Linked DNA regions of Homo sapiens: regions 1, 2, 3, 5 and 6 are each linked to region 4. Evidence: fine-mapped expression QTL. A gene starts in region 4. Each other region holds a variant in brackets. All regions are shown on one strand. Distances are from middle to middle. Region 1 has its middle 36 kb from the start of CLEC3B. Region 2 has its middle 15 kb from the start of LARS2. Region 3 overlaps LOC105377061 (a long non-coding RNA gene). Region 4 holds the start of TMEM158 (transmembrane protein 158). Region 5 overlaps CDCP1 (CUB domain containing protein 1). Region 6 has its middle 40 kb from the start of TMEM158.

Region 1 (5,075 bases), 160 kb before region 4:
GTGGGCGGATCACTTGAGGTCAGGAGCTCGAGACCAGCCTGGCCAACATGGTGAAACCCTGTCTCTATGAAAAATACAAAAATTAGCCAGACATGGTGCCTGTAATCCCAGCTACTTGGGAGGCTGAGGCAGGAGAATCACTTGAACCCAGGAGGTGGAGGTTGCAGTGAGCCAAGATCGCACCACTGCACTCCAGCCTGAGTGACAGAGTGAGACTCCGTCTCACAAAAAAAAAAAAAAAAAGAAAGAAAAAAAAAAAAGAGAGATCAGCAGCCACAGAACACACCTTGGAGTCACATGGGTATAGCAGAAGGGCCCCCTTCCCTCACACCGGGCAGCAGGAGGCTGGACTTCTCCCATCAGTTTGCCACTTTCTTGCTGTGTGGCCTTAGTGTCAGAATCACACATTCTTTGGATTTCCTTATAATGGATCAAAAAAGAAAGAAAGAAGAAAGAAAGAAAGAGGAAAGAAAGAAAGAAAAGAAAGAAAGAGAAAGTGTGAGAGAGAGAGGAGGAGGAAAATAATCAGTTCTGCTGCACTTGCCTCACTGGGTGGTTATAAGGACCGATTCAATTCAGAATTTATTGAGTTGTTGTGTGCCCAGCACAGTGATGATTGGGGTAAAAGAGTGCTTGTGAAAGTGCTTTGCAAATCAAAAGAGAAGGTATTGACCCACACTATTGATCCCATTGAGATCAAAGACCCATGAAACCAAGCCTGCAGGCTGGCCTCATGGTGGCTGCAGCTACCAGGGGTGGGCATGGGGTGGGGTGGGGGGTGGAAGTCTTAATAGAGGGGTAGGGGGGGCAGTCCCTTAGGTGGAAGGTAGGGGAAAAGACTTAACCCAGGAATATAAAATAATCTTGCCACTGCTAGGACTGCAAACAAGCTCAGGGAACGCTGTGGGTGTCAGGCAGCCAACTAATTAGTGTTTTGTGAAAAGAAAGGAATCAAGAATGAAATTGGCCCCTGCTGGTATCCTGAGAGCCAGTGAGCCAGCCCAGGGTCCACAGTGCAGACTGAATTCTCGTCTGTGGCAGAGTGCTTCTTTACTTTTCTCCTGCAGAGCCATGGATGTGGATTTTGGCTAAAAATATTTTTTCCCCTCAAATGACATAGCAACCACAAAAGAATTTTCTGAGTAGTCCCTCTCACATGCTGGGTTTCTCTCCCTGAATTCGAAGGAGCAGCTGGACCCCTCACAACCCCAGTCCCTAGACCCCAGTCCCTAGTCAGAGTGGTTTCTTGCATCTCCAGTCTGGATCCTGGAGGGGTCAGATAGGAAAGTCCTGGGCAATGTGAAGAGGCTGGGAAAGGGCCTGAAATCATTTCACCAGCTGGTGCCAGGACTCCTCTTTCCAGATGGAGGGAGCCCAGCACCTCTTCTCCCAGGGCTGGTTGTCAGCCCCTGAGGATGGGGGTATCAAGGCCTGGGGATACCAAGGTCTGAGTGTCGGGTAGAGGATGGGAGCCCCAGAATCACCTGGAGGTGGTGTGGAAGAGGCTTCCAGCAGTATTTTGTGAAAGGAAAATATTTGCAGTGTTTTGTGAAAGGAAAATAAAAACTTGGTACCCCAATTCACTATATCAGAGGCATTTGAACCAGAGTGACTCCATCTTGAATAGGGGCTGGGTAAAATGAGGCTGAGACCTACAAAATGAGGCTACATTTCTAGATGGCTAAGGCATTCTAAGTCACAGAATTTGACAGGTTGGCACATGATGCAGGTCATAAAGACCTTGCTGATAAAACAGTTTGCAGTAAAGGAGCCAGCTAAAACCCACCAAAACCAAGATGGTGATGAGAGGGAACTTTGGTCATCCTCACTGCTATGCTCTCACCAGTGCCATGACATTTTACAAATGCCATGGCAATGTCAGGGAGTTACCATATATAATCTAAAACGGGGAGGCATATATAATCTACCCCTTGTTTATAATTTCATCAAGAAATAACCACAAAAAAATGGGCAACCAGCAGCCCTAGGGGCTGCTCTGTCTATGCAGTCTCGCTCTGTCACCTAGGCTGGAGTGCAGTGGTGCGATCTTGGCTCACTGCAACCTCTGCTTCCTGGGTTCAAGCTAGTCTCCTGCTGCAGCCTCCTGAGTAGCTGGGATTACAGGAGTGTGGCATCATGTCTGGCTAATTTTTGTATTTTTAGTAGAGACAGGGTTTCACCATGTTGGCCAGGCTGGTCTCGAACTCCTGACCTCAAGTGATCCACCCACCTCGGCCTCCCAAAGCGCTGGGATTACAGGCATGAGCCACCATGACTGGCTGGAGTAGCCATTCTTTTATTCCTTTACTTTCTTAATAAACTTGCTTTCACTTTGCTCTATGAACTTGCCCTGAATTCTCTCTTGTGTGAGATCCAATAATCCTCTCTTGGGGTCTGGATCAGACCTCTTTTCTGTAACACCATGACAGTTTACAAATGCCATGGCAATATCAGGAAGTTACCTTATATGGTCTAAAAGGGGGAGGAACCCTTAGTTATGGGAATTGCCGGTCCCTTTCCCGGAAAGTCATGAATAATCCATCCCTTGTTTAGCATATGATCAAGAAATAAGTAAACATAAGCAGCTGAGCAGCCCACGACACTGCTCTGCCTATGGAGTAACCGTTCTTTATTGCTTTACTTACTTACTTTTTTTTTTTTTTTTTTTTTTTTGAGACAGAGTCTCACTCTGTCGCCCAGGCTGGAGTGCAGTGGCACAATCTCGGCTCACTGCAACCTCTGACTCCCATGTGATTCTGCCGCCTCAGCCTCCCAAGTAGCTGGGGCTACAGGCG[A/T]GCAACCACACCCTGCTAATTTTTGTATTTTTAGTAGAGATGGGGTTTCACCATGTTGGCCAGGCTGGTCTGGAACTCCTGACCTTAGGTAATCCACCTGCCTCGGCCTCCCAAAGTGCTGGGATTACAAGCGTGAGCCATGGTGCGCGGCCTACTCCTTTACTTTCTTAATAAACTTGCTTTCACTTTATGAACTTGCCCCGAATTCTTTCTTGTGTGAGATCCAAGAACCCTCTCTTGGGGTCTTGATTGGGACCTGTTTCTGGTAACAACTATGGCAAAGGAAAAAAAATTAAGCTGAAAGCTGAGTTGTGGAAGAAGCTGCCTTTCCTTTCATTTCTAAGCAGACAGCTACAGATAAAATGTTACAGAATTTCCACAGGTAGCTATTCTAAGTTCACCTTATCTTACGTAAAGTGCAGATTTACTGAACAAAAGATGAATATATAATTGACTATTCCCCTACCTGCTCCCTTTCTCACAACATGTGGATTCAGTAATATGACCATATCCTCCCTTTTTTTCCTCCAGCCTGCTTTCCTCCTTTAAATATCAAAGCCCTCAAAGTCATCTTTGGAGAAAGGCACAGACCTGCCTCCTGAGCACTTGTCCTTAACCTCAGCAAAATAAAATTCTAAATTGATTCAGACCTGTCTCAGATACTTTTTGGTTTACAATTTCTTTTCCTTTTTTTATTAATTAATTATTTTATTTATTTACTTATTTATTTTTGAGACGGAGTTCTGCTCTTGTTGCCCAGGCTGGAGTGCAGTGGTGCAATCTCGACTCACTGCAACCTCCACCTCCCAGGTTCAAGCGATTCTCCTGCCTCAGCCTCCGGAGTAGCTGGGGTTACGGGTGTGCGCTACCACGCCCGGCTAATTTTGTAGTTTTAGTAGAGACGGGTTTTCTCCATGTTGGTCAGGCTGGTCTCGAACTCCTGACCTCAGGTGATCCGCCCGCCTCAGACTCCCAAAGGGCTGGGATTACAGGTGTGAGCCACTGCACGCCACTTGGTTTATAATTTCTACAGCACATCTTCTAATCCATTCTATCCATGAGCCTGTTAGGGAGACTCAGAAAACAATGGACTCAGTAGATGCTGGCAAGACTGAAATACTTTGTGGGGACATTTATTAACCACAGAATCTTGAGTCTTAACAAGGTTTTTTTGTTTTGTTTTTTGTTTTCTTGAGACAGATTCTCACTCTGTTGACCAGGCTGGAATGCAGTGGTGCAATCTCAGCTCACCACAGCCTTGACTTCCCAAGCTCAGGTGATCCTCACACCTCAGCCTCTCAAGTAGCTGGGACTGCAGGTACACACCACCACACCTGGCTAATTTTTTGTATGCTTGGTAGAGACAGGGTTTTACCATGTTGCCTAGGCTGGTCTCAAACTGCTGGCCTCAAGGGATCCGCTTACCTTGGCCTCCTCAAATGCTGGGATTACAGGTATGAGCCACCATGCCCAGCCAAGTTTTAACAAGTTTTTTTTTTTTTTTTTGAGATGGAGTCTAGCTCTGTCACCCATGCTGGAGTGCAGTGGTGCGATCTCGGCTCACTGCAACCTCCACTTCCCGGGTTCAAGCAATTATCTGCCTCAGCCTCCCGAGTACCTGGGATTACCGCCCGCCACCATGCCTGGCTAATTTTTTTTTTTTTTGTATTTTTAGTAGAGACAGGGTTTTACCATCTTGGCCAGGCTGGTCTTGAATTTCTGATCTCGTGATCCACCCGCCTCAGCCTCCCAAAGTGCTGGGATTACAGGCATAAGCCACTGCACCCAGCAGAGTTTTAACAAGTTTTTAAATGAGGTTTTAATTTTCATTTTATTTTAAAATTGGAGATACATTCTCAAGGTTCAAATTCAAAAGTTACAAAAGGGTATACTGTGAGAAGTTTTCCAGCCCCACAGACTTCTTTGAAGTCACACACTATTCATAGTTTCTATTTAACAAGATTTTTTCAAACTTAAAAAATAAAATAAAAAGCTTCCCAAATTCTTAGAAGCTATTTAGAGATACTGACTTTGCTCCAACTTAACTCTACAGTGGAGAGGAAGTGATGAGTTCCTCTAAAGGAGTGGTGCTGTTCGTCCAGCCTGGTGTCATTGAGGAAGGTGTCCGTGGGGGAGGTGGGGGTGGAGTAGGGAGAAAATGTTACTGGAAAACGGTCCCAATCCAGACCCCAAGAGAGGGTTCTTGGACCATGTGCAAGAAAGAATACGAGGTGAATCCATGAAATAAAGTGAAAGCATGTTTACTAAGAAAGTAAAAGA
Region 2 (5,075 bases), 150 kb after region 4:
CCCATCTCACAGGGATTAATCACCAGAATATATAAGGAGCTTGAATAACTCTGTAGGAAAAAAAAAAAGTAAAAATCTGATTAAAAAATGGTCAAAAGATTTGAATAGACATTTCTCAAAACAAGAGATACAAATGGCAAACAGGGATATGAAAAGATGCTCAACATCTTTGATCTTCAGAGAAATGCAAATCAAAACTACAATGAGACATCATCAGGCAATAACAAACGCTGGCAAGGATGCGGAGAAATGGGAACCCTCACACTGTTGGTGGGAATGTAAATTAGTACAATCACTATGGAGAACAGTTTGAAGGTTCCTCAAAAAACTAAAAATAGAGTTGCCATATGATACAGCAATCCTACTGCTGGGTATATACTCAAAAGAAAGGAAATAAGTATATCAAAGAGATATCTGCACTTCCATATTTGTTGCAGCAGCGGTTCGGTTCTGGGATGGCTGCAGCAGCTCCTAAGGTTTTTATTACACACAGAAGGAAAGAGAATCTGGGATCTAGTATTCCTAGCAGAAGTCCTGTGCTTCCCCCTGATTGCTCTGGCTTAGGTCATGTTTCTGACTGAACTGTCTCTGTGTTCCTGGGATAGAATGAGCTGAGTAGTTTACACCGCACCTTAGACCTGGGGATGCAGGTCAAGTCCATAGACTAAATGGCCCAGAATTGGGTCAAGGGGTAGTTTCCTAAAGGGAATTCCAAAAGTGATGATTAGGAAAGAGGGAGGAATAGATGCTAGGAAACAATAGATGATAAGCCCATCTATACCTTAAGCGATTTGGTTATCACAGCTGGGGCAATTTTATTGAAAAGTAATTCATATAGTAGCATGTATCTTGAGGTTTGCCTTCATCTCCATACTGGGAGACTGAAAGTTGTTCCCAGAAGATCTAAATCAACATCTAAAATGTGACAGCTGCCAGGCAAGGTGGCTCACACCTCTAATCCCAACATTTTGGGAGGCCGAGGCGGGTGGATCACCTGAGGTCGGGAGTTCGAGACCAGCCTGACCAACATGGAGAAATCCTGTCTCTACTAAAAATACAAAATTATCCAGATGTGGTGGTGCATGCCTATAATCCCAGCTACTTGGGAGGCTGAGACAGGAGAATCACTTGAACCCTGGAGGCGGAGGTTTTGGTGAGCCGAGATGGCACCATTATACTCCAGCCTGGGCAATAAGAGCAAACTCCATCTCAAAATAAATAAAATAAAATAAAATGTGACAGCTCAGGTAAGAATATACCTGGTTAAAGCATGGAAATAAATACCAAGTTGGAATTATGTATTACTCTTACACTTCTAGGTCATTTCTAGTGAGTTTGCCTTACCTAGAGGGGTAAGCAAGGAGGAATAGTCTTGTTTTTACCTTAAGGGGATGAGATGGTCAAAGCAATAAAGATTCCCATTCCTGGAGATGTTTGCCACAGGCTTTTATATTAGCCAAATAGAGTGCAGAGCAAGCAGCAAGAAGTAGGGAAAATGAACAGAGGGCAGAGAAATAATGTCACACTGATTCAAGTGACACGATGTTAAGGGATTCCACAAATAACTCAGCAAATTGATCATTAAGAAATTTTAAATACTACTTAAATTAATCCAGAATGCCTAAACCCTGGCAGGTTCCAACAGAGTAGGTGAGGCAAGGTGAGGTAGGAAGGGGGTGAGGAGGTAGCATGGTGGGGACCACAAAGACCATCTGAGAGGGTGGTTGGGAAGCAACAGTAGAGAGGAGAGAAAGAGAGATAGAGAGAGAAAGAGGGAGAGAGAGAGAGAGACTTGGAGGGTCAGGTTCCAGAATATGAAAGACACACAGATGGGAAGACAGGCAGAGGCACCCAGTCATGGAGTAGAATTAGACACAAAGATTCCCTGGAGGGCAGAGAGCCTGGCCAGTTCATCGCTGTAGGCCCATTTCCTGATGCGGGGCCTGCCTGTTGCGGGGTTTGCAGCATTGGCTGAATGAAAACCAAGGCAAAGGAGACAAGCAGAGAAGGACGACAGAGCTGGAGGGGGAGACACAAGGGTGGGAGATGTGCGGTGGTTCAGGCTGAAGATCAAATGCAATAAAAGAAAACAGGTAATTACATTGGGAAGAAAGTCAATTTTGCGGGTGTCCATGTGTAAAAAGTAAAGTAGAGGTTCCTTTTCAAAGACTTTCCTCCCCATCTAATTAGGAATAAATAGTAACTTCTCTTAGAAGCAAAATTTATTGAAAGACCTGTGCTAACATTCTTAAATATCTGCTAGCCATAATAAGGAAATCAATGTACTTTATGTTCTTAGCTCC[C/T]ACAATTTAGCTTAAATATTTGCCCTAGCATGCTTATACTGGTCCAAGCAAGCATTAGGTCATAGCCTGTTCCTCTTCCTTACTTGAAAGTGTTTTTACCTTTCTCAGCATTCCACAAGTTACTTCCTCCTTCCTTTGTTCCCTTCTACCTTTGCCTCTTTTAAAAAGTTCTAAGTTGCTAGCCAATCAGGACAAATACAGAATGTGAGGTCCCGCTCCAGCCAGTGGAAACCAGACACAGCAGTAGGGTGAATGTGTCAGGTTATAAATGACCCTGTTTCCTTTGTTCAGTGTACTTTTGTGGCAAAACTGCTAGCAAGTGTACCCTTTCTGCAGGAAGTAAAAATGGCCTTACTAAATAAATTAAATTTATGTTCAAGTGCTATTTCTTTATGGCACCAAGGAACAAACATTTCAAACACATTCTACAGAAGCTTCCTATGATGTGGAAAACCAAGATAGTGTAATTTTTGAAAAAGGACTAAGCTTAAAGTTAAAAACTAATAAATACTTATTTTTTAAAGCATTTATTTATTTTTATTTATTTATTTTTATTCTTCCATAGGTTATTGGGGTACAGGTGGTATTTGGTTACATGAGTAAGTTCTTTAGTGGTGATTTGTGAGATTTTGGTGCACCCATCACCTGAGCAGTATACACTGCACCATATTTGTAGTCTTTTATTCCTCACTCCCCTTCCATCCTTCCCCCTCAAGTCCCCAAAGTCCATTGTATCATTCTTTTTTTTTTTTTTTTTGAGATGGAGTCTCACTCTGTCGCCCAGGCTGGAGTGCAGTGGTGCGATCTCGGCTCACTGCAAGCTCCGCCTCCCGGGTTCAGCCATTCTCCTGCCTCAGCCTCCTGAGTAGCTGGGACTACAGGCGCCCACCACCATGCCCGGCTAATTTTTTGTATTTTTAGTAGAAACGGGGTTTCACCGTGTTAGCCAGGATGGTCTCGATCTCCTGACCTCATGATCCACCCGCCTCGGCCTCCCAAAGTGCTGGGATGACAGGCGTGAGCCACCCTTGCCTGGCCCATTGTATCATTCCTATGCCTTTGTGTCCTCTTAGCTTAGCTCCCACATATCAGTCAGAACATACGATGCTTGGTTTTCCATTCCTGAGTTACTTCACTTAGAATAATAGTCTCCAGTCTCATCTAGGTTGCTGCAAATGCCATTAACTCATTCCTTTTTATGGCTGAGCAGTATTTCATCATATGTATATATCAGTTTCTTTATTCACTCGTTGATTGATGGGCATCTGGGTTGGTTCCACGATTTTGCAGTTGTGAATTGTGCTGCTGTAAACACGCATGTGCAAGTATCTTTTTCATATAATGACTTCTTTTCCTCTGGGTAGATACCCAGTAGTGGGATTGCTGGATCAAATGGTAGTTCTACTTTTAGTTCTTTAAGGAATCTCCACACTGTTTTCCATAGTGGCTGTACTAGTTTACATTCCCACCAGCAGTGTGGAAGTGTTCCCTGATCACTGCATCCACACCAACATCTACTGTTTTTTGACTTTTTGATTATGGCCATTCTTGCAGGAGTAAGGTGGTATCACATTGTGGTTTTGACTTGAATTTTCCTGATCATTAGTGATGTTGAGCATTTTTTCATATGTTCATGGCCATTTGTATATCTTCTTTTGAGAATTGTCTATTCATGTCCTTACCCACTTTTTGATGGAATTGTTTGTTTTTTCTTACTGATGTGTTTGAGTTCATCATAGAGTCTGGATATTAGTCCTTTGTCAAATGTATAGATTGTGAAGATATTCTCCCACTCTGTGGTTGTCTGTTTACTCTGCTGATTGTTCCTTTTGCCATGCAAAAGCGCTTTAGTTTAATTAAGTCCCAAATATTTATCTTTGTTTTCATTGCATTTTCTTTTGGATTCTTGGTCATGAAATCCTTGCCTAAGCCAGTGTCTAGAAGGGTTTTTCCAATGTTATCTTCTAGAATTTTTATAGTTTCACATCTTAGGTTTAAGTCCTTAATCCATCTTGAGCTGATTTTTGTATAAGGTGAGAGATGAGGGTCCAGTTTCATTCTCCTACATGTGGCTAGCCAATTATCCCAGTGCCATTTGTTGAAAAGGGTGTCCTTTCCCCACTTTATGTTTTTGTTTGCGTTGTCAAAGATCAGTTGGCTGTAAGTATTTGGGTTTACTTCTGGTTTCTCTATTCTGTTCCATTGGTCTATGTGCCTATTTTTATACCAGTACCATGCTGTTTTGGTGACCATGGCCTTATGGTATAGTTTGAAATCAGGTAGTGTGATGCCCCCAGATTTGTTCTTTTTGCTTAGTCTTGCTTTGGCTATGCAGGCTCTTTTTTTATTCTATATGAATTTTAGAACTGTTTTTCCTAATTCTGTGAAGAATGATTGTGGTATTTTGATGAGGATTGCGTTGAATTTGCAGATTGCTTTTGGCAGTATGGTCACTTTCACAATATTGATTCTACCCATCCATGAGCATGGGATGTATTTCTGCTGAGACCAGCTCAGTTGGAGAGACCCTAACCCAGCAGCGCTAGAAGAATTAAAGACACACACACAGAAATATACAGGTGTGAAGTGGGAAATCAGGGGTCTCACAGCCTTCAGAGCTGAGAGTCTCGAACAGAGATTTATCCATGTATTTGTTAACAGCCAACCAGTCATTAGCATTGTTTCTATAGATATTAGATTAACTAAAAGTATCCCTTTTGGGAAACAAAGGGATGGGCCGAAATAAAGGGATGAGTTGGGCTAGTTATCTGC
Region 3 (5,075 bases), 94 kb after region 4:
AGTTTATTAAAAAGATTTAGAGCAGGAATGAAAAGAAGTATAATTGGAAGAGGGCCAAGTGGGCAGCTTGAGAGATCAAGTGCTCTGTTTGACCTCTGACTTGGGGTTTTATACGTTGGCATGCTTCCAGGGCCTTGCGTGCCTTCTGCCCCTGATTCTTCCCCTGGGGTGGGCTGTCTGCATGCACAATGGCCTGTTAGCCCTTGCGAGGGGCCAGCCACAAATACAGTGTGTTTACTGGAGTTATACGCATGCTCACTAGAGACATTCTTCCCTTACCAATCTCTAGCATTCCTAGAGAAGGTCATATACCAGTTAAATTCTGCCATTTTGCCTTTTAGTGTACGTGCATGAGTGCACTCACCTAACTCCTGAAATCTTACCAGGAAGCAGCTGATCACCAGTTTCAGGTGTTTCTGTTTATTGGGAGACTGCCTTTCCCTGGTGCTGGCTGCAATCAATTATTATTTTAGAAAGACAGTTAAGGCCAGCGGCCGTGGTTCACACCTGTAATCCCAGCAATAATTTGGGAGGCCAAGGCAGGTGGATGTTCTTTACTAAAAAAAAAAAAAAAAAAAATTAGCTGGGTTTGGTGGTGGGTGCCTGTAATCCCAGCTACTTGGGAGGCTGATGTGGGAGAATCACTTGAACCCGGGAAGCAGAGGTTGCAGTCAGCCGAGATTGCACCATTATACTCCAGCCTAGGCAACAAGAGCAAAACTCCATCTAAAAAAAAAAATAAAGAAAAAAAGAAAGACAGTTAACAAACTGCCTATCACCTGATGGTCACCTGACACTCCTGGTTGTTGGTGGTGGGGCTCTTCTGTCCTGCTCATGTCTGATTAGCTACCTACTGTAACAGTGGGACAGGTGGCTGGGAAGGCAGAGAGAGGGGAATGGGACCTCTGTTTTAACTGTGTTTTCTTAGACTCTGAATTTATCTGTTTGACATCCTTTCATCACTGGGCCAATTCCTCTCTTTTCTTATTTTCTGTATTCTTGATGCTCTAGCATTTCTGACCTTGCTGAGAGAGACTGCTCCTCCCAGGGCTAGCCAATTATTAGAGATAGCAAAGGGCTCCCTTGAGGATGCCTTTCATATGAAAACTAACCAAGCCTGAGCCCTGGATTTACTCCCTCCACCCCGCCCCCCGCCCTACATCAACCCAGGGCCCAGTGAGTGTCAGACAACTAGGAACAACCTCTATGGCCCCAAAGCCATCCAGAATCATTTACTCCTAAACTGCTTACCCTATCCCACCTTATCTTTCCCACAGAAACCCTAATAAATAAAGGCTCTGGCCCAGGCTTTCCCCTTTATGATTTGCTTTTGACTCAAGGATTCTCTAACTCAAGAGTTAATTAGGCAGTTCTGGGCCTAATGAGGGCATGTACAAGTTTCATCCACAAGGAAGGGTGGTCTGTGGAGCTACCATTTCTGCCACAGTTCCAGGGTGGGCTTAGGTCAGGGCAGCAGGGGGCTTCCCTCCCCCAGCCCCAGGAAAAACAAGTATTAATGTGTTGGAGTTAGGGTAGGGGTCCAGATAAATCTTCCTCAATATAGGTTTAGCCACGCAGCTTTACCTGAAGGCCTACAGCCCTGGTCTGTCTGGGAGGGTGTGACTCCTGAACTGGAGTCACTCCAAGGCTCAGCGGGGAGCTGATCCTCAGGGCCCTGGGAGCACAGTAGATGTCCCTTTAGACATTTAGAGGCATGATTCCAGGAGGGATTTGTGGAGGAGGAATCACAGGAGCTGGGGCTTTGTTGACTCCACCATTTGGCCTAAGTCGTCCTCCCTCCCTCCATTTTCTTGCAAGTCCTCCCAACTTGGGAACATTTTGTTAAATACTCCCATGTACACACCACCCCCTGTTCACCATGTTCCTGACACTTAGCTCCTCAGTGGGTCCCCTCCCTGGCATTGAAACAGAGGCAGATTTAATACGGTATGAGCATCGTAGGGAAGGGGGCAATAGAGTCGACATGCCAACGAGCCATGGCAGGAAGCTCTCCTTCCACTACGGCTGAAAGATAAGATCCGGAATGGCCCCACTACCCTGCCAACCCCATCTATCCTCATGGGGGCTGCTCTGGAAAAGGGAAAGAGGCTGAGTTGAAAATATTTGTTCTGTTTATTTCATTCTGGTCCCACATAACAGACCTGGAGGCAACGATGAGCTCTAGGCTACAGACAGGCTGCCTTGTGGAAGGAGCCAGCTGGTTGCTGAAGGACTGTGGCTGCCTCTCAGATGGACTTGTTTGTCTTACAAAGCCCAGTCCGATTGTCCCCAGTGCAGATGGCAGCTGGCATGAGACCCTAATTGGAAGAGGATCCTGTGACCTCCAAACCATGGAAGAGGATCCTGTGACCTCCAAACCAATTAAATGATTTCTCAGGAGCTGGGAACAGCTGCATGAGGAAAGCGCTTGTGATTGCTTTGAGAAATGGGTGATTTTTTTTTTCTCCCATGGAAGTCGCTTTAGTGATCTTAAAAGGTGTTGGCTGTGGGTGCTATTCAGGTCCAGAAAATTGGTCTCGGGAGAAGGAAGAAAAGTGACATTAGCAACCTGGCTTTTTCAACACAGGCTCTAACGAGGCTGAGATGGGTTGTTGGATAAATCATTGCTTCCAACTATCAGGAAAGTTGCCTGGCCCGGAAATAGGAGAAGGAACTGCAGATACACTTCTTTGATTGGGCAGAGAATTTAGGGGATTCGGGTTTGGAGCCTAAATCGTCACTGCAACTCCATTCAGGAACGTCCCTTGGGTGATGAAACTGTTCTATGTCTTGATTGTGGGATTGTTGCAGGATTATACGCATCAATCAAAACTCACAAAACTGTAAACTTCAAAGGGTCAATTTTACTCCATGTAAACCGTTCCTAATTTTAAAAACACACATACACAGTATCCTCTAGGCCTGCTCTCCTCACCTAGACCCAGGCAGGCCTCTGTGTGGTCTGTTAATCCCCTGCCCTGCTCACACCTTCTGGGGATCCTTGTGAAATTTTTAGAAAACAAGGAGGAGGAGAAAAAAACACCAACATAGGATTATGAACACGGAGAGATCTCTAAGTCCCCGGGGAGTTCTGATAATCCCGATGCCCAGGCCACCC[C/A]TGAATGGTGAAGTCAGAATCTCTGGGGCTGGGACCTGGCCTCATGATATTAAAGTTCCCCACCCGCCAGGTTGCCTGTAATAACAGACTGAGACCCCCACTCTAAATGATGAGTGGTTCATCTTTTCAATCCTTCACTGTTCTGTCTTTGGAGATTGTGTCAGAAGACCACATTTGAGGCTCTACATTCTCCCACCCCTGCCCACACCACCCCAAACTTCAGGGGCTGGGTGCCCCCAGATTTCTGTCTTGTTGCTATGGGGATTTTCAATAGGCTCTTCTCTCTCTCACCCAAGAATCAATTTGGAACTCTGGCCGCGGGCTTGGACTGCCTCCTGCCACCTGCCATTCCTCCTTAACTTCCTGCTAACATGTGTACATATCGTGTCCCCAGAGGAAGGAACTCTGGTTCCAGCTCCCCGCACTGTGGGTGAGAGTCCCCATGAACGCTAAGACAGGGCAAATCTCTCAGCCTCTTTGAGCCTCAGGCTTCTCATCAGCACGATGGGGAGGGTTGATGAGAGGATGTGCAAGGATTCACTTTGGAAATATAAGCATTCAAAGTCTAATTAATATTTCTTATAGATGGTGCCCTGGGGGTGGGACCTCGTGTCCTTCATCTCTTGATTTCCGACAAGAGTCACTGCAGCATCCTCACATGAACCCCCGATTATAGTTTGCCAAATTAATTATTATTAAAGCCTGTTTCTCATAGAGAAAACAATCAAGCCACTTTTGGGCTGAGAAATCTTCTGGATCCCAGTAACAAGTGGGTGGGTTAGCTCAGAGCTCAGTGCAGGCCTCTAAAACGGCAGAGCTCCTGTTGGGGAACCTGAAGTGTCCCAGGTTTCTGAGGACTCCTGTCCTCACAGAAGCCCTGTGACTGTGACTGTGCCCACCCGCCAGGAGGCAGGACAGTGAGCTCTGCCTGCCCACGAGCGCTGTCCCTAGCACAGCACTGGATTGTTCTGTTTCCTTTGAGGCACTGATGAGGTACGAGACTGTCTCCTCTGGAGGGGAAAATTAAGAGGCACAGTGGGGAGCTGTGTTGTGTTTTGAAGCTTTTCCAGAATTGATTTTGTTGGGAGACATTTTTTTTTAAAGAGTCCTTTCTTGAATGTTGGCAGAGTGGACAGACTGCCAGAAAAGGCTGTGATCCGGACACCCCACCCTGTCTGTGTGAGGTTGCCCCTGCCCCTCCGCAGTCCTAGGGAGGCTGCCCATCCTACCCAGGGTGCTGTGGGCTCCCGCTCAGGGGAAACAAGCCCAGGTGTGTGCTGCACTTGGCAGATCTGCTCAGGCAGCATCCGCATTTGTTTCCCATGGTTACTATAACAAAGTGCCACCAGCTGGGGGCTTAAAACCACAGACATGTATTCTCTTGCGGTTCTGGAGGCCAGAAGTCTGAATCAAGGTGTCTCATGCTCCCTCTGAAGGCTCTAGGGGAGAATCCTTCCATGCCTCTTCCTGGCTTCTAGTGGTTGCCCCCAAATCGTTGGGTGTTCCTTGGTTTGTAGCCAATCTCTGCCACTGTCATGATGTCACAGAGCCTTCTTTCCTGTGTCTTTATGTGACCTTCTTGGGAGGACATTAGTCATTGGATTTAGGGCCCACCCTAATCCAGTATGACCTCATCCTAACTAATTTTATCTACAAAGACCCTATCTCCAAATAAGATCCAATTAGACCTGAATTTTGGGGGGACACTCTTCAGACAGGTACATTATTCTTGGGTCTCGCTCACTCCAAGGCCATAGCGCCCTCTCCTGAGACCCTGCCCTGTGTTTTTACCCCAGTACCCATTGAGGAGCCACCATGGTCATGAGTTGGCATCTAGTGCAGAGTCTGATTGAACTCTATCAGAGGGGTCTTGTAGCAGCCTGAGCAGGGTGAGCTCAGCACCACTGTTGAAGACTGGCATTGTGGTGTGAGGGAAGGGGCAGGAGCCTGGATCCAG
Region 4 (5,075 bases):
AAAATAATTTTTAATATTAAGTCTCTTTAAGGACTTTTTACTTATTCTTCTGAAAACCTGGAAGAATTTGAAACTACTACACAGCAGACACTGTAACATGGAAACCAAGAGTGAGGAAAATCTTGTGATCATTAACTATTTATCCCCCAAGAGTTTATCTTTTTAAAAAATCTAAATGCCAAAATAATATCTCAGGTTTTAATACCAGCTTTTGGAATGTGCTTATCTGCTAAAGTTCATGCATATGAAAAGAAATCTACATGCCTTTTAAAGTGAGTCATTTTCGTGAAAGCCATCCAGCTCAGAGGAACTATTGATTTTACCATTTTGATGCTTGCCTGGGTGTTTTGCAGAGCTTAGAACAATGAGCAAAAAGTTAAATCATATAAAACTGTGTTTGCCACCGTGACAGGTGGGGGGTGGATGGGAACTGAGGGTCAGTGTGGTGAGATGCAAGACAATCGCCATCAGGGCAAATAATACTGTTTCCATCTATCTCTCACAGCCAGGTAAAGGAGACAGAAGTAGCCCTTCTCTAACTTTTCCGAGATTCCCTTGCTCAGGTTTTAGGGTAACGTCTTGCAATTCTGGGATTCCCTTTCCCAAATCAAATAAAGAAAAAGCTACATACACATCTCTGGAGGAAAATGTCTGTATTAAAAGCCAAAAAACCACATAAGTACAAGAAGAAACGCCCACCAGGCCACGTCACTGGATAGATCAACTTGGAAAAGGTTCATAAAGTTCATTTTCAGCGGTAACAATATATCGGTGTTAAATCCTTCCCATGCCCTCCCCCCAATTTTAAATAAATTAAAAAACCACAAATTTCAAATACAACTATGTTCAGATACAAAGAGCTTCTCTTACTACAGCAATAGCAATTTAATCTTTTTGTTTTGTATTTTTTTTACTAAAACTTTCATTTAAAACAGTTATTAAATATATAAAACAAATACACAGGATTTGGTCATTTTCTGCCATGAATCTAGGGCACGTGGGTGCGGGGAAGGAGTCGGGCAGGGGGATGCAATAGAGGGGAAAGGGCCCCATTTCCCTCCTCTCCGTCTTCGGAGCTGCGATCCCACCCTCAGTCCAAGGGCTTAAACATCTGCTTTTCGGAACTGGAAGCGCAGCACAAACCTTGCTTTTCAAAGGCGCTGGGGTCTCTCGGCGGCCCCATCTCGGGAAGAGGAACTAACGATAACTACAGCACGAAGCACACCGGCCGAGTCTCCGGCGGGAAAGGCACCCGCGCGCGCGGACACAGGACGGACACAGGGAGGAGCGGAGCGGGTCACTTGGTCGCCACCCCCGAAGTGACGGCCGCGGCGGCGGCGGCAGCGGCGGCGGCGGCGGCGGCTGCGGTGGTCCCTGCGGGCACTGCGGCGGGGGTGGCTGCGGTGGTGCTGGCGGTGGTCCGGCGCTGTTCCATGCCGTTGGGCAGGAAGCCGGCGATGATGGGCACCGGCCAGATGAGGGCGGCCACGCTCCACACCACGATGACCAGGGTCATGAAGCAGGCCACCAGCGTGGACTCAATGGGCTTACGGTTCAGCCGCCAGCCCGGCTCGCCCTGCAGCTCCTCCAGGCTGAAGTCTAGGCAGCAGAAATGCAGCGGCTCGCCCTGCAGCCACAGCGGCCCGGGCGGCTCGGCCGCGGGGTAGGCTGGCAGCGCGGTGGGCGCCCCGGCGGTGGCGGCGGCGGCGCTGGGGGCGGCGGCGGGCCGGAGGCGGCCGGTGCGGCGACCGCGCACCCAGCCGCAGCCCACGCAGAGGCGCAGGTCCTGCTGCGCGCCGCCCGCCGCCAGCCCCAGGTGCTCGATGAGCAGCGGCGGCCCGACGCGGTGGAAGGCGGCGGCGAAGAAAGCGCGGCCGTGCGCGTTGGTGGAGAAGAGCAGTAGGTCGCACTGGAAGCCCCGCGGGCGGCCCCAGCGCACGAGCAGCGAGCTCAGCATCTGCCGCTGCACGCTGATGTTGCACGGCGCCGCCGCCGCCGCCGCCTCCTCCGGGCCCGGGCGCTCGGGGGGCCCGGGGGCCGCCGAGGCCAGCAGCCGCGGGGCGATGGGCTCGTCCGCGGAGGACGCGTTGACTGAAGCATTGGAGGGCACCCCGAGGAGGCCGGGCGCGTCCGCGGCCCCGCCGCGGACGGGCGGCAGCGGGCAGGCGGCGGCCAGGAGCGCGGCGAGCAGGGGCAGCATGGCCTGCGGCGGGCGCCTACGCGCGCGAGGCCGGCGGCGGTTGCATGGCGAGCGGGCGACGGGCCGGCGAGCTCACGGTGGGACCGCGGGAGCCGGCGGCCGGGCGCAGTGCGGGCGCGCCGGGCGCCTGCCAAGCCCGCAGGGGCGGCGCGGAGGCGGTGACGGCGGCTGGCTCGGCGCGGGGATCCCTCCAGACCCGGTTGCGTTTGGGGTTCCCCGCCGCCCCCGGCGCCGGGGCCCTTGGGCTGCCGCGCTGCTCTGCGGGGCCGGGTGCTATCCCAGAGCAGGATTCCCCGGCTCGGCTCCGCCTCCCGCGTGCCCCGCCCCGCCCCGCCCTCCGCTCGCCAGGCTCGGGGACTCAGGGGAGGGCGGGGTTCCACGCGCCGGGGCTGGGAGAGGAATCGCCGGGGCGGGGCTGGGTGCGGGGGCGCGGCGGAGAGCGGATCGCCCGGGGTGCGTGCGGGCGGGCGGGGAAGCCTGCGGACGCGCCCGGGCGCCCCCGCGCTCCGGGTGAATCGCGTTCTCAGAGGGAGGCTCCAGGGCCCGGAGACCATCCTTTTGTCAGGCCTGAGGGGAGCTTCGCTGTCTCGCCTTAGTGCTACCGAACCTCCTTTGTTTTACAGAAGGGGAAACTGAGGTCGAGAGAGGGGAAAGGGCCTCGCTAGGCCAACTCATGAGCCAGAAACAAGTCCGCGCCACTAGCTCTTTCTGCCTTTTTACGGTGTCTCTTACCTCAAATCTGTAGAGTTTGGCTGCTTTTTAATGGCTCCAACACAGCAGACTCACTTGGGATTCTCCTCGCAGCAAGCGAGGAAAATTCCAAGAACTCTGTGGAGTTTCGAGTGGAGAGTGACTGGCTGGGGGGAATGTGAGCCCTGAAGCTGTGCCGCCTGGGGGTCCCGAGGACACAGGTCCTGACAGGTCGAGTGAGCGCGTGTTCATGAAACAGTTGTAGGTTAGAACCCACGTCAAAGGGGCAGTTCATCCCCTTTGGGATATTATACGGGAGGAGGGCTACCAAGAATAACGTGTCAAGAGATCAGATTTATCACATTTATATTGAAAAGCACTTTCTTAGTAGTTCGGCCCCTCACACTTGGAAACAAACTTCAACGACCCTTCATCATTCCCATCGTTCTTTAGGGGACATTTATGTTGAATTATTATCTATTTTATTTTAGTTGGAAGCCCTTGTACTCCATGAGCACCAAGTATTCCTGATTCGGAGAGGGGAGGGGTGGAGGGAGCAGAGAAAGGCCTCAACAAAACCGCCTTCCTTCTAAACCAGCTAATCCTGAGAGGTCTGCCAAGAGTCCAGCTACATTGCTAGGCATCCTGGCTGATTACTTTTCTGGAAGCTTTTGTCCATTGTTTTCTAACAATGAGTAAAATGGGACTGAGAAAGTTGCAAAAACGCCTCAAAATAAAGCTCCCCAACTTATTCCACCTCTTGCCATCTAAGCAAGCCATTATTCTGACTTAGCCTTGGTTTCCCCATCTGAGTTGGGGGGTGGGTGGTACCTCCTCACAGGGCTGCTGTGATAATACTCCCAACCCAGTGTCTATCTGTCCCCAGATGTTCCCACATGGTGGTTGCTGTGATGTGGTTACTAACAGTGCTGCCCAAGTTGGCTGCCTAGAGTGGTCCTTGGTTTCTACAGAAATGGTTCATTTCCCCAAGGGGATGGGACTCCCTTTTCGTTTCAGCCTCCATCACTTTTGTGCTTGGAAGTGGTGCTACCAGGGAGAACAATGTGAATTTTCCTGCTTTTAATAAAAATGACTTCTCCTTTCAACCTTTGCATATCAGGAACAGAAGCTGCTCAGTGATGTGGCAGAACAGTTTTAATTTAAGCCATGTGTCTGGTGAACCCTGAAGAACAGGAATATCAAGTGATCCTGAGGGCTGAGGGAGGCCTAATCTTCAAGGGGTGCGTTTTGAGCCAGGCTGTTGCCTGTGACTGCAGATGACATTCTCTGGGGTTTCAGTCAGAGGCAGAGGCTTCCTGAGCTTTCCTGAGACACTCCTGGCTTTGTCTGTGCAGGGGGGAAGGCAGCAGCAAAGGGAAAAGACAAGAGATCTATTTGGGGAGCCAAGCAGTTCCCTGCAAAGTTGCGCCACTGAAGCTCTGCATCCTAGCAACCTGCATTCTGCCCACTTTTCCAGCAGGTGCCGTCCTGAGGACTCCGTCACCTCGCCCTCATTCAGAATGTAATTACCCTTCAAATAGTAACACAGATCCTACTTTCTAGATTGATTTGCTATCTTTTTGGAATTTGAGAACAGAAGATAGCGAGGAAGTTATTTTCTATCTTGTTTACTACTGTTCCCAGCAACGGGAAAAGCACCTAGCTCAGGGTAGAGGCTCAGTAAATACATTTTTGTTTGTTTGTTTTTTTGAGATAGAGTCTTGCTGTGTCACCCAAGCTGGACTGCAGTGGTTCGATCTCGGCTCACTACAACCTCCGCCTCTCAGGATCAAGCCATTCTCCTGCCTCAGCGTCCTGAGTAGCTGGGACTACAAGCATGCGCCACCACGTCTGGCTAATTTTTGTATTTTTAGTAGAGACGGGGTTTCACCATGTTGGCCAGGCTGGTCTCAAACTCCTGACTTCAAGTGATCCGCCTGCCTTGGCCTCCCAAAGTGCTGGGATTACAGGTATGAGCCACCGTGGCCGGCCAATACTTCTTGATTGAACAAATTTGCCTACCTCTGACTAGCTTCCGCTTGTTTAGTACTTTCCACGTGCCAGGTGTTTGACACATACACACACATCATCTCTAATCTTCACAACAATCCCATGGATGTGATGCCTATTTTACCATGAGAAAACTGAGGCTCAGAGAAGGTGAATCACCTACCTGAGGTCCCAC
Region 5 (5,075 bases), 110 kb before region 4:
AGTTAGAAATGAAGCAATCAAGGTGGGTCTGTAGAACCAATCCCTTGTCATTTTTTTGAAAACAAGTATCACATGCAAAAAGGACAAAGAGAATCACCCCGTTTGTTTAATAGAGAAGAGGGGGTTCACACTAGGAATGCATGACCCATGTCACTTATAAGAGAGCTAGATCTTCCTTTATGGTTTTTATATTGAGTATTAGAGATTTGCTGACATTTGACCATTTCTGACCTAGAACAATGATGATCTTGTGTGTTTTAACCTAATCAGATAGCAGGGAGGGGCTTTCTCACGTTTTATAGATGAGCGGTTTGCAATGCTGAAGCCGGAGACATTTCTGGGGTGGAACCATGGGAGGTGTAAGGCCATTTTCACTCCTTCTTGCATCTTGATCCGGGACACAGTGCCATTGCTGCAGAAGGTTCCGATCCTGACCACGGTGGCATCGATTCGGCCGCTGATGGAGTGAGTGACTCCGTCTGGGCAGCTCTCACCCGGACCGATCTGCCTCAGGCGAGGGATGGAAAACTGCAGCTCTAAACCGATGCTCTTATGAGCTTTGACATCCCAGATGAAAGTTCTGTTGAGGGTAGGCAACAACGATGTCGAGGGCTGAAGCTGAACCTCCCCAAAAGGACATGGGCCTGACATACAGTCTGAAAAACAGTCACAGAAGCAATTTTGATCACAGATGCTCCAAGGCCCCACACCACTCCTCCTCCACCACTCAGCCCCCTGTAGTAGACTCTTTGGGGCTCCCCCAAGGTGGCCTTTACCAGGCAGGGGCACCCAGGCCCCAACTGCTGTGAGTCTTAGTGGCCAATGGCTCACAGATGTACCCTCCTTCGGGGAAGTGCCTCAGCTCGGGGGAGCTGCCTTGAACCAGAAAAGCCTGAGAGGTGTTGCAGCCCCTCATGCCCATCCCAAGGGAGAGGTGCTGTCTACAGCCAATAATGGCCTCCTGCAGGAATTAAAAAGTCTGACCTCCTTGCTTCAAGTGATGTAACCTGGGTATGCCATTCATACTCCAGAGCTCCCCATGGGGTCAGGCTGAAGCTACTCTTCAGCTAAAACCGCATCTGCATTCAGCTACGTGCCCTGCTCTATCCTGCTTTCCTCACTTCTGAGAGCACTTTCTTGATCACTGACTTAAACAAAAAATCCTGTCTCAGGCTCTGCTTCCAGGTCACCAGACTTGAGACATCTCTTAACTACTGTGATTTCCAGATTAAGTTCCTGGGGTCCAGTGGGTGAAGCCAGAAGGAAGGCATTTGTAGCAGAGTCTGTGCTTTGGGATCTCCTACTTCTCCTGTACTAAGAGAGTCACGATTTCACAATTTGTAGAGCACAGTGCCAAGATCCATCCTTTAAAACTGGTTTCCCCATCAACACATTCATCAACATAGCAAATATACTCTGAACGTGCAACTCCCCTGGACAGCTGGAATCTGGCGGCGCCATTTCTCTTCTTGCACTGCCTTAATGCTGATATTTTATAACCACTGCAGTTGAATTTCTTTTTTTAAGGCTAACAGCTAATAACATCCTTTGATATATTTGTTTCCTAAGCCTTTTAAAACAAAGCAAGAAATATTATCAAAGAGAAAACAAGAGGAAAGTGAGGGGACGAAACAGAAAGTAGGCAATGTAACATTAAGGTTTTGTTGTTTTGAGCAGGGGGCATCTGAAAGGTGTGATAGACTCTGGCCTCCATAATAATAATTTGTGAATCTTTACTGCTGTTCTATTGGGGTATTTGAAAGTATTGTCCACTCAAAATAGAATTATGGAGAATTTCAGATCAGTCTTGGATCTCTGAGGTCATCCAAGCCAGACCTCTAATTTTTGCAAAGCAGCTGTGGATCCAGGTGACTTGGGCTGGCACTTGCAGCAAGTACACGGCAATTCCAGATCCCAGGACGAAAGCTCAGGCTGTGTTTGGTCAGCCCTTTCTTGCCAATGCGCTATGCTGTCTAACCAATAACACAGGGTTAGATAACATGGTGACTAACGTGACTAAAATTAGACTTTGC[G/A]TGTTAGTAAAGGTAGTTCCTATTTTAGGAGCTCATGGAAACTTCAATGTTTATATCAAGCCACCTCTTTCTTTCAAAAGCAGACCTCAAGTGATTTTCCACGCACACCTCCAGTGTGCCCAGGGCAACATCAGTTGGCTCTGGCTAGGTTCTGTACTCTTGTGGAAACATTTAACTCTAGTAAGGCAGTGACTCTTAGCTCTGGTTCTACCTACAACTCACCTGCAGGCCGTTTAAAAACTACACATGCCTGGACCATCCCAGGGATTCTGATTTAATTCTATAGTAAAATCTGGAGTCAAAAAGCCCCATCTCCCAGCCTCAGCTCTGTCAGCAGCCATGTGACACTGTGAGAGTCAGGTTATGAAAGCAATTTTTCATTTGATGCTAAGAGCTTTGTTTTTTAGGATGAACACACAGGTAAGAGTAGTCAAAATGATTGGCATGCCTCGGAATCTTCTCCTGTACTCTGTCCAGTGAAAACATTTTAAATAACTAAAATGATTCCTGTCCAGAGGATGGAGAAGTATTATTTCTGAAGTGATTCATAAACTCATTTTCCCCAGCAGATTTCTAATTTCATTAACTCTCTTTTTTTTTTTTTTCTTTTTGGAGATGCAGTCTTGCTCTGTCACCCAAGCTGGAATGCAGTGGCACCATCTTGGCTCACTGCAACCTGTCTCCCAGGTTCAGGTGATCCTTCTGCCTCAGCCTCCCAAGTAGCTGGGACTATAGGTGTGTGCTGCCATGCCTGGGTAATTTCTTTTGTATTTTTAGTAGGGGTTTCACTATGTTGACCAGGCTGGTCTTGAACTCCTGACCTCAGGTGATCCATCTGCCTCAGCCTCCCAGAGTGCTGGGATTACAGGCATGAGCCACCATGCTCAGCCAACTTTCATTAGTTCTCATGGAACTATTCAAGAAGAGATGAGAATGGAGACATCAAATTTTATCTGATGCTGATTTCAGAATGATTGTTCAGAAAAGGCAATGAAGGGCAGGTGGACCACTGGACCTGATTCAGTGTCTAGATTTATTATTTTAGAAATTGATATTTTCATATCATTTTCAAAAGTTGTGAGCATGGGTTTTTACTACATAGTAAGCCATGTGGGCATCCTAGGATTGAGAGACTGAATGCATTCAAAGGCTTGACTTGTGAAATGTGTCACTTGTTACATTTTTCCTTTTTCAAAGTGGAAGTCACTTTATTGGTTTAACTGATTATAAAAGTAATGTACAGTCGTTTTAAAAACAAACAAAAAGACAAGTGGGTGTGGTGGTGTGTGCCCAGCTACCCCAGAGGCTGAGGTGGGAGGATCACCTGAGCCCAGGAGGTTTGAGGCTACAGTGAGCTGTGGTCACCACTGCACTCCAGCCTGGGTGACAGAAAAAAAAAAGGTGGGGGTGGGGTGGGGTGGGGCGGGGAAGTACAGAAAAGTAGAAAGAAGAAAATGTCACCTGTTCCCCTCTGCCATCCCCTATAGAGTAGTATAAAGTTAGAATTTTGGAGTTTTGGAGTTTATCCCTCCAGACTTTGGGTTCTGTATGATTGTGTGTGCATGTTTGTGTGCATGTATGTAAGTGTGCATGTGCACATGTGTGTATTTAATAGAGTAGCATCAAACTATATAAACTATTGTCCTACTATAAGCTGCATTGTTTTTAATGGAACAAAACTATTTTGGGCATCTTTCTATGTCAAATACACAAACTTACTTCATTCTCTTAGTAGCAACACACCATTCCACTGCGTTCTTAAATATATCAACGTTCTCTTTAACTCTGTAAAAGCTTCATTAAAATTTTAATTATAATTGACTTAAATTGATAAATTAATATAGGGGAGAATTTACACTTTAAAAATACTTAGTATTTCTTTTTTTTTTAAATTTTTTTAAGACAAATTCTCACTCTGTCATCCAGGCTAGAGTGCAATGGCACAATCTCGGCTCACTGCAACCTCTGCCTCCTGGGTTTGAGTGATTCTCCCACCTCAGCCTCCCGAGTAGCTGGGACTACAGGCACATGCCACCACGCCTGGCTAATTGTTTGTAAAAATATTTATTTTTCCTATCAAGGAACATGGCATATCTTTCCATTTATTTAAGTCTTCTCTTTTGTCTTTCAACAGAATTTTATATTTTGCTTCGTATACTTTATGTACTTATTAAGATAATCTCTATATATTTAATTAGAGATTCTGAATAATGGTGACCAAGGGCATGCATAATAAGCCTCCTTATGTTATTGCCTGTTTTATTGGTAATGCTGCCATATCTGATAGTTAAATATGGTATTTGCTATCAGTTCTTGATAGATGCTCTTTATTGAATTAAGAAAATAACCTTCCATTCCTGATTTACTAAGAGTGTTTTATGAAAGACATTTAAAATCTATGTTCATACTGTTCTGTTAAAAAAAAAAAAAAAAGACATCTAAAGTCATCTATTGAGATGATCATATACAGTTTTTTCTCTCTAACCTAATAATGCAAAGCATCACATTAACTGATTAGCCAGGTGGTTTATGTATCATCTATGGCAGATTTCACTCTGTAATAGAAGAGTTGAGGAGCCATAGTGTTCCGTTAAAAAAAAAAAGACATTTAAAATCATCTATTGAGATAATCATATGTAGTTTTTTCCTCTCTAACCTAATAATGCAAAGCATCACATTAACTGATTTGCCAGGTGGTTTATGTATATCGTCTACAGCAGATTTCACTCTGTAATAGCAGAGTTGAGGAGCTGTGACATGATACAAACCTCCTGGCTCACGGGCCTAAGACACCTACTATCGGACCTTATCTGAAAGAAGTTTGCCAACCTGTCTCTAGAATGGTTTGAATGTCATAGAAATTATCTGCTCCTTGAAGTTTTATAGAACTCACTTGTAAAATCATCTCTAACTAACCCAAACTGTTCTCCCCTGTCTCGGGCATTTTTTCCAATCCCCTCCTTGGTTATTTATTTATTCAGTTTTCCTACCTTTCCATGAGTCAATCCAGCCCATTAAATTTTCTTTGAAAATCATCCACTT
Region 6 (5,075 bases), 40 kb after region 4:
ACCAGACACTTACAGTGAAGCAATTTTCAGTGTGGTGGACTCTTTCAGGGGTATCTGCTCACCGTTCCTCATTCTCCAAGACCTGAAGCCACCTCTGCACCGACAGGATGGGCCCTGTGGTCTCCTGTGTCTGCTCTGACCCTGCTCCTCTGGCCAGAGCTGGTGGGCACACAGCCTGACATGGCCTGAGCTGGACCCTTAAATCTTACCTTTCAGAAATTTAGATTGTCATTGAGAAATGAGGTAGGTCACTCTTGGTCACATGACAAGGACAAAGGGATTTAGGGGTGTCCCCCTTTGGCCCCATGCATGGGCATATACAGATAGGAAGTGAGCAAAGAGAGAACAGCAAAGACCTGCAGAGAGATGCAGAGCCCAGGGACCCTGTGATATCCAAAAAGAGCATCTGAGAGACGCAAAAGAGGACATGCTGTATGGTTTCATTTTTACAACGATCTAGAAAAGACAAAACAAATCTAAGGTGGTAGAAATCAGAACAATGGCTTCCTGGGGCAGGGTGTGAGGGGAGTTGGACAGCAAGGGGCCTGAGGGAACTCTGAGGGGGTGTAGTGATTACATGGGTGTAAGCATTTGTCAAAACTCACCCTTCTATACACTTAAAATATGTGCATTTGGGCCGGGCACAGTAGCTCACACCTGTAATCCCAGCACTTTGGGAGGCCGAGGCAGGTGGATTGCTTGAGGTCAGGAGTTCGAGACCAGCCTGACCAGAATGGTGAAATCCTGTCTCTACTAAAAATACAAAAATTAGCCAGGCGTGGTGGCACATGCCTGTAATCCCAGCTACTCAAGAGGCTGAGGCAGGAGAATTGCTTGAACCCTGGAGGTGGAGATTGCAGTGAGCCGAGATCATGCCATTGCACTCCAGCCTGGGTGACACAGCAACACTCCATCTCAAAAAAAAAAAAAAAAGGAAAGAAAAAGTGCATTTGATTGTATGTAAATTATACCTCAATAAAGTCAACTTAAAAAAATTAAAAGAGGAAAGAGTGGCAGTCATTCACGGCCTCTGTCTTTCCCGCCAGCAGCTGGGGAGAATGGTGTCTGATTCTCTTCTACAGTCTGAGCATTTTGTGGGACCCTTGGATTCTTTTAGCAACTTTCCCCTACCTTCTGCCTAAGCCCATCTGAGTGGGTTTTTGCCACTTACAGCCCCAAATTTTTGAACAAGATAGTTTTGTGACAACTGACCCTGGAAAGGAACAGTGTCAGGGGTACAGTAATGTGTAATTCCCTGGGTTTGTGTAAGCCTCTCAAAAAGGGGACTTGCTCCTCTCCACTAATCCAAGCTTAAGTGTCTCCTTCCAGAGCTTTTCCCAGTCATATAAGATAAAGTGACGTATGTGTATATGGTAGACATCAGTTGAGTTAATCCATCCAAAATCGATTCTACCTTCCCCTGGAAACAATAACCCAATTTCTTTGGGGACCACCACCCATCCAGCTCACATTTTTGCTTAGTCTGTGAGACTCAACTGAGGGAGACCGACCCCACCTCCTGGGACAAGGGTTGGGATATGGCCCAGGCCTGGTCCCAAGAGCATCCCCCTCCCCCAGCCCATATGCAAGCTGGGCCACCCTCTCCATCCCAGAACTGTTGGGGTACTCTGGAGGCAACGTGCTGTCTTCCTGAGCCTAGAGCTCTTTGAGCCCCTAGATCGAGTTACAGTTAAAGCTCCAGATCTTCCCCCAGACTTTATAATTGTAGGAACCAATTCATGTCCTTTTCTTGTTTAAAAGCTGAGTCTCTGCCACTTGTAAGAAAAAATGATCTGAGTCGGATGATATACATATTCATAGAGATTTAAAAAACCACAATTGGCATCATAACATCCATACTGGTCATCAACTTAGTTTTTAAAATGTCTTCACTTACATAACATCATGGATCTCTTTCCATTTCTGTACAGGCTACCTTCCCTTTCTCAATGCTGCACAGTATACACAGCGTGGGTAAATTACAATTTACTTAACAGGTCCCGCTTCATGAGGATGTCCTCTAAATTGGTTTTACACAATTTGCTAAATTTTTATTGTTGTGGTTATTAAAGAAACATATACACTTGATCGAGACAAAGTTGAACCACTAGAAAGGCCTAAAATGAAAACTCATCTGCCACCACTCCTCTCCTGTGCCCAGTTTCATTCCCCGGGTATCACCACGTCTAAGAGTTCCCAATTTTCCACTCCTCTTTTGGTTCCCCGCTGCAGTCATCTGTTTTGTTTTTTTTTTCCATCCTTCATCAGCCTTAGAATCCTATTTGATTTTTTTCTTTCTCTAGAGAATAATGAGCTTGTTGATGTAAAATTCCCGTTACCAAGAAATAGTCATTGTTAATAGTGATAATCTAAGCCGAGGATATAGAGATTCATCTTAAAGTTTTCCCTCAAGAAGATCACAGTGTAGGAAGGGAAAAAGATAGATAAATAAGTGAAGGAAAGTATTCTAAAACTTCATAGAAAGTTCAGTGGATTGGGAGGGTGAGGTGGGCAGACTGCTCAAACTCAGGAGTTCAAGACTCAGCTTGGGCAACACAGCAAAACCCTGTCTCCACAAAAAATACAAAAATTATAATCGGGCATGGTGGTGTGTGCCCATAGTCCCAGCTACTCGGGAGGCTGAGGTGGGAGGGTCACCTGAGCCCAGGAGGTGGAGGCTGCAGTGAGC[C/T]GAGGTCGCGCCATTGCACTCCAGCCTGGGCGACAGAGTGGGGCCCTGTTTCAAAAAACAAACAAACAAAAAATCCCAAAAGTTCAGTGGAGGTTCAAGGGGAAGAGGCATCAGTTCTAGGTGAGGATCCAGAGAGGGATTCACAGAAAAAGTGATTCCTAGGAGAAGAGTAGGTATTTTCCAGGTGGGCAAGGAAGTGAAGGGCAATCTGCTCCAAAGCAGAAGGAAGGAAGTAATGATTCAGGGAGGGTCTGGTGGAGTGGGAAAAATCACTTTCACCTGTCAGCTTATTCTTCTTGGATCCTAGATTTTCATTCTAGGATATTTTACTTCTTCCTGGAGTACATCACTTAGATGTTTCTTTAGTGAGGATTTGTCAGTGGCAAACTCTCTTACTGTTTACGTTACTGAAGATGTCTCTATTTTACTCATTCTAGAAACATGGTTTTGCTAGGCTTATAAATCTAGTTGACAATTATTTCTATCACCACTTTGAAGACATTATTCCACTCTCTTCTGGCTTCTATGTTTGATGTTGAGAAGTCAAATTTGATCTATCTTGGCTCCTTTGTGAGTAATCTGTCTTTTTTTTCTTCAGGTTTCTTTTAAGATCATCCCTTTGTCTTTGACATTCTGTAGTTTCACTACGATGTGTCTGAGTATGTCCACCTTATGACTTATCCTGTCTGGGAGTTTCAAAAACTTTCTAAATATGGGGATTTATGTCTTTACTCAATTCTGCAAAACCCTCAGCTCTTATATCTTTGAAAATTACCTCTTATCGCACTCTCTATTATCTATTTTTGGAGCCCTGATTAGATCTATATTGGACCTTTTCACTCCATCATTTAATTTTCTTAACCAGACTTTTCCATATCTTTTTGTCTCTGAGCTGCATTCTGTGTATTTTCTTTGGATCTACGTTTGAAATTACAGGTTCTCTCTGCAGTTGTGTCTATTTTGCTTTTCAACTCTTCTACAGATATTTTAATTTCTATTACATTCTTTATTTCCAGAAGCTTTGTTTGGTTCTTTTTAATATGTCTGCTTATTTTTATAAGCTCCTGCTTCTTACTTACTTTCAAATTATCTCTGTTATTTACTTAATCGTATTAAAATCATAGTTTATATTTAATAATTCTAATTTTTTTTCTTTTGACTCTTACTCATGATGGCTTGCTTACTTGGGCCTTTTCTGATTTTACATTATGAGCTCATTTATGATGGGACTTTTCCAGTAGGAATTTTATGAGGGCTGTGTTGTGCGTACATGATTGCCTCCGTCAGGAGCTTTGGGCACTGTGGACCTAGGTTCTTCTAAATTCTTATCTTGGGATATTTTGGTATATTTCAGTGTACATTCAGACATCACACCTAGAGGAGGGTTGGCCACTTGCCTTCAAATCTCAGGAGAAGTTTTCATTTTTCCTCCTCTGCCAGAACTGATTCTGAGTCACTGTTTCTTGAAGTCAGCCTCTGCTAGGTAGGATACCCTTAACTTCACCCTTTCCTGAAAGTGTAACCCCCTCCGAGGCTTGGATTTGTGCAAAATTTTGTGGCTCTGGATCTATTACTGCTCAGGTCTAAGGCTTGGTTTACTGTTCATTCCTACCTCTTCCCCTTACTATCTGCTTCCCTATGAAAAAAATCCTAGGCTACTTTTCCCTAAAGATGATCTCAAGCTGTGAAGTGCTTTTTGGCTTGGTCTTTGTTTACCTTCAAAGGCTCAGGTTCCTCCTGCTTTTCTGAATCACAGGTGATTCTCTTACTTTGCTTTGTTGCAGACCATTTCATTGCTATGAAGATTTTGCATATACCTATACCTATATCTATATCTATCTATCCATATATCTCCTCCATATCCTCAGGGGATTGGTTATATATGTACATATACACATGCATATAGGTATGTGTATAACCAATGCACACAGTTGTTCCTTGGTATCCATGGGGGATTGACCAGGACTCATCGCAGATACCAAAATCCGAGGATGCTCAAGTCCCTTCTATAAAATGGGGTAGTATTTGCATATAACCTACACACATCCTCCCATATACTTTTAAAAATATATACCTACTTTATAGAGGAGTCTCATATACTTTAAGTCATCTCTAGATTATTTATAATACCTAATACAATGTGAATGCTATATAAATAGTTGTTACACTGTATTGTCTTCTTGAATTTGTATTATTCTTGTTGTATTGGGGTATTTTTTCCCAAATATTTTCACTCTGCCGTTGGTTGAATCCAAGGATGTGGAACCCAGGAATACGGAGAGCCAACTGGATATGCACCTGTGTGTTTAGCACATTAGAATATTTTTCATGTAGAAGGAAGATTTTAGGATGTTCAAATTGTTGACTTCTACGGGCATTCCAATTT

The links. PIP is the estimated chance that this variant, and not a neighbour inherited with it, causes the effect.
Region 1: its variant is the best candidate, but not a certain one, in a credible set for the expression of TMEM158 in fibroblasts (GTEx, PIP 0.65).
Region 2: its variant is the best candidate, but not a certain one, in a credible set for the expression of TMEM158 in nasal epithelium (TOPMed, PIP 0.57).
Region 3: its variant is the best candidate, but not a certain one, in a credible set for the expression of TMEM158 in whole blood (INTERVAL, PIP 0.77).
Region 5: its variant is the best candidate, but not a certain one, in a credible set for the expression of TMEM158 in gastroesophageal junction (GTEx, PIP 0.62).
Region 6: its variant is the best candidate, but not a certain one, in a credible set for the expression of TMEM158 in whole blood (INTERVAL, PIP 0.76).

The regions. Positions count from the first base shown.
Region 1 is chr3:45,059,699-45,064,773 of GRCh38, forward strand. No RefSeq gene overlaps it. Among named protein-coding and RNA genes, the nearest start is that of CLEC3B, 36 kb to the left of the region's middle. The variant A/T (reference allele first, on the strand shown) is at 2,796.
Region 2 is chr3:45,371,523-45,376,597 of GRCh38, forward strand. No RefSeq gene overlaps it. Among named protein-coding and RNA genes, the nearest start is that of LARS2, 15 kb to the right of the region's middle. The variant C/T (reference allele first, on the strand shown) is at 2,304.
Region 3 is chr3:45,317,773-45,322,847 of GRCh38, forward strand. The region is part of intron 2 of LOC105377061 (a long non-coding RNA gene); the gene reads left to right. Among named protein-coding and RNA genes, the nearest start is that of LARS2, 68 kb to the right of the region's middle. RefSeq lists an enhancer at 4,227-4,727. The variant C/A (reference allele first, on the strand shown) is at 3,119.
Region 4 is chr3:45,223,828-45,228,902 of GRCh38, forward strand. TMEM158 (transmembrane protein 158) reads right to left here and starts at 2,460. Exons shown (of 1, transcript NM_015444.3): 1 at 639-2,460. The coding sequence starts at 2,200. The coding sequence ends at 1,298. RefSeq lists silencers at 2,287-2,356, 2,367-2,706.
Region 5 is chr3:45,111,790-45,116,864 of GRCh38, forward strand. CDCP1 (CUB domain containing protein 1) reads right to left here. Exons shown (of 9, transcript NM_022842.5): 3 at 294-656. Among named protein-coding and RNA genes, the nearest start is that of CDCP1, 32 kb to the right of the region's middle. The variant G/A (reference allele first, on the strand shown) is at 2,034.
Region 6 is chr3:45,263,990-45,269,064 of GRCh38, forward strand. No RefSeq gene overlaps it. Among named protein-coding and RNA genes, the nearest start is that of TMEM158, 40 kb to the left of the region's middle. The variant C/T (reference allele first, on the strand shown) is at 2,690.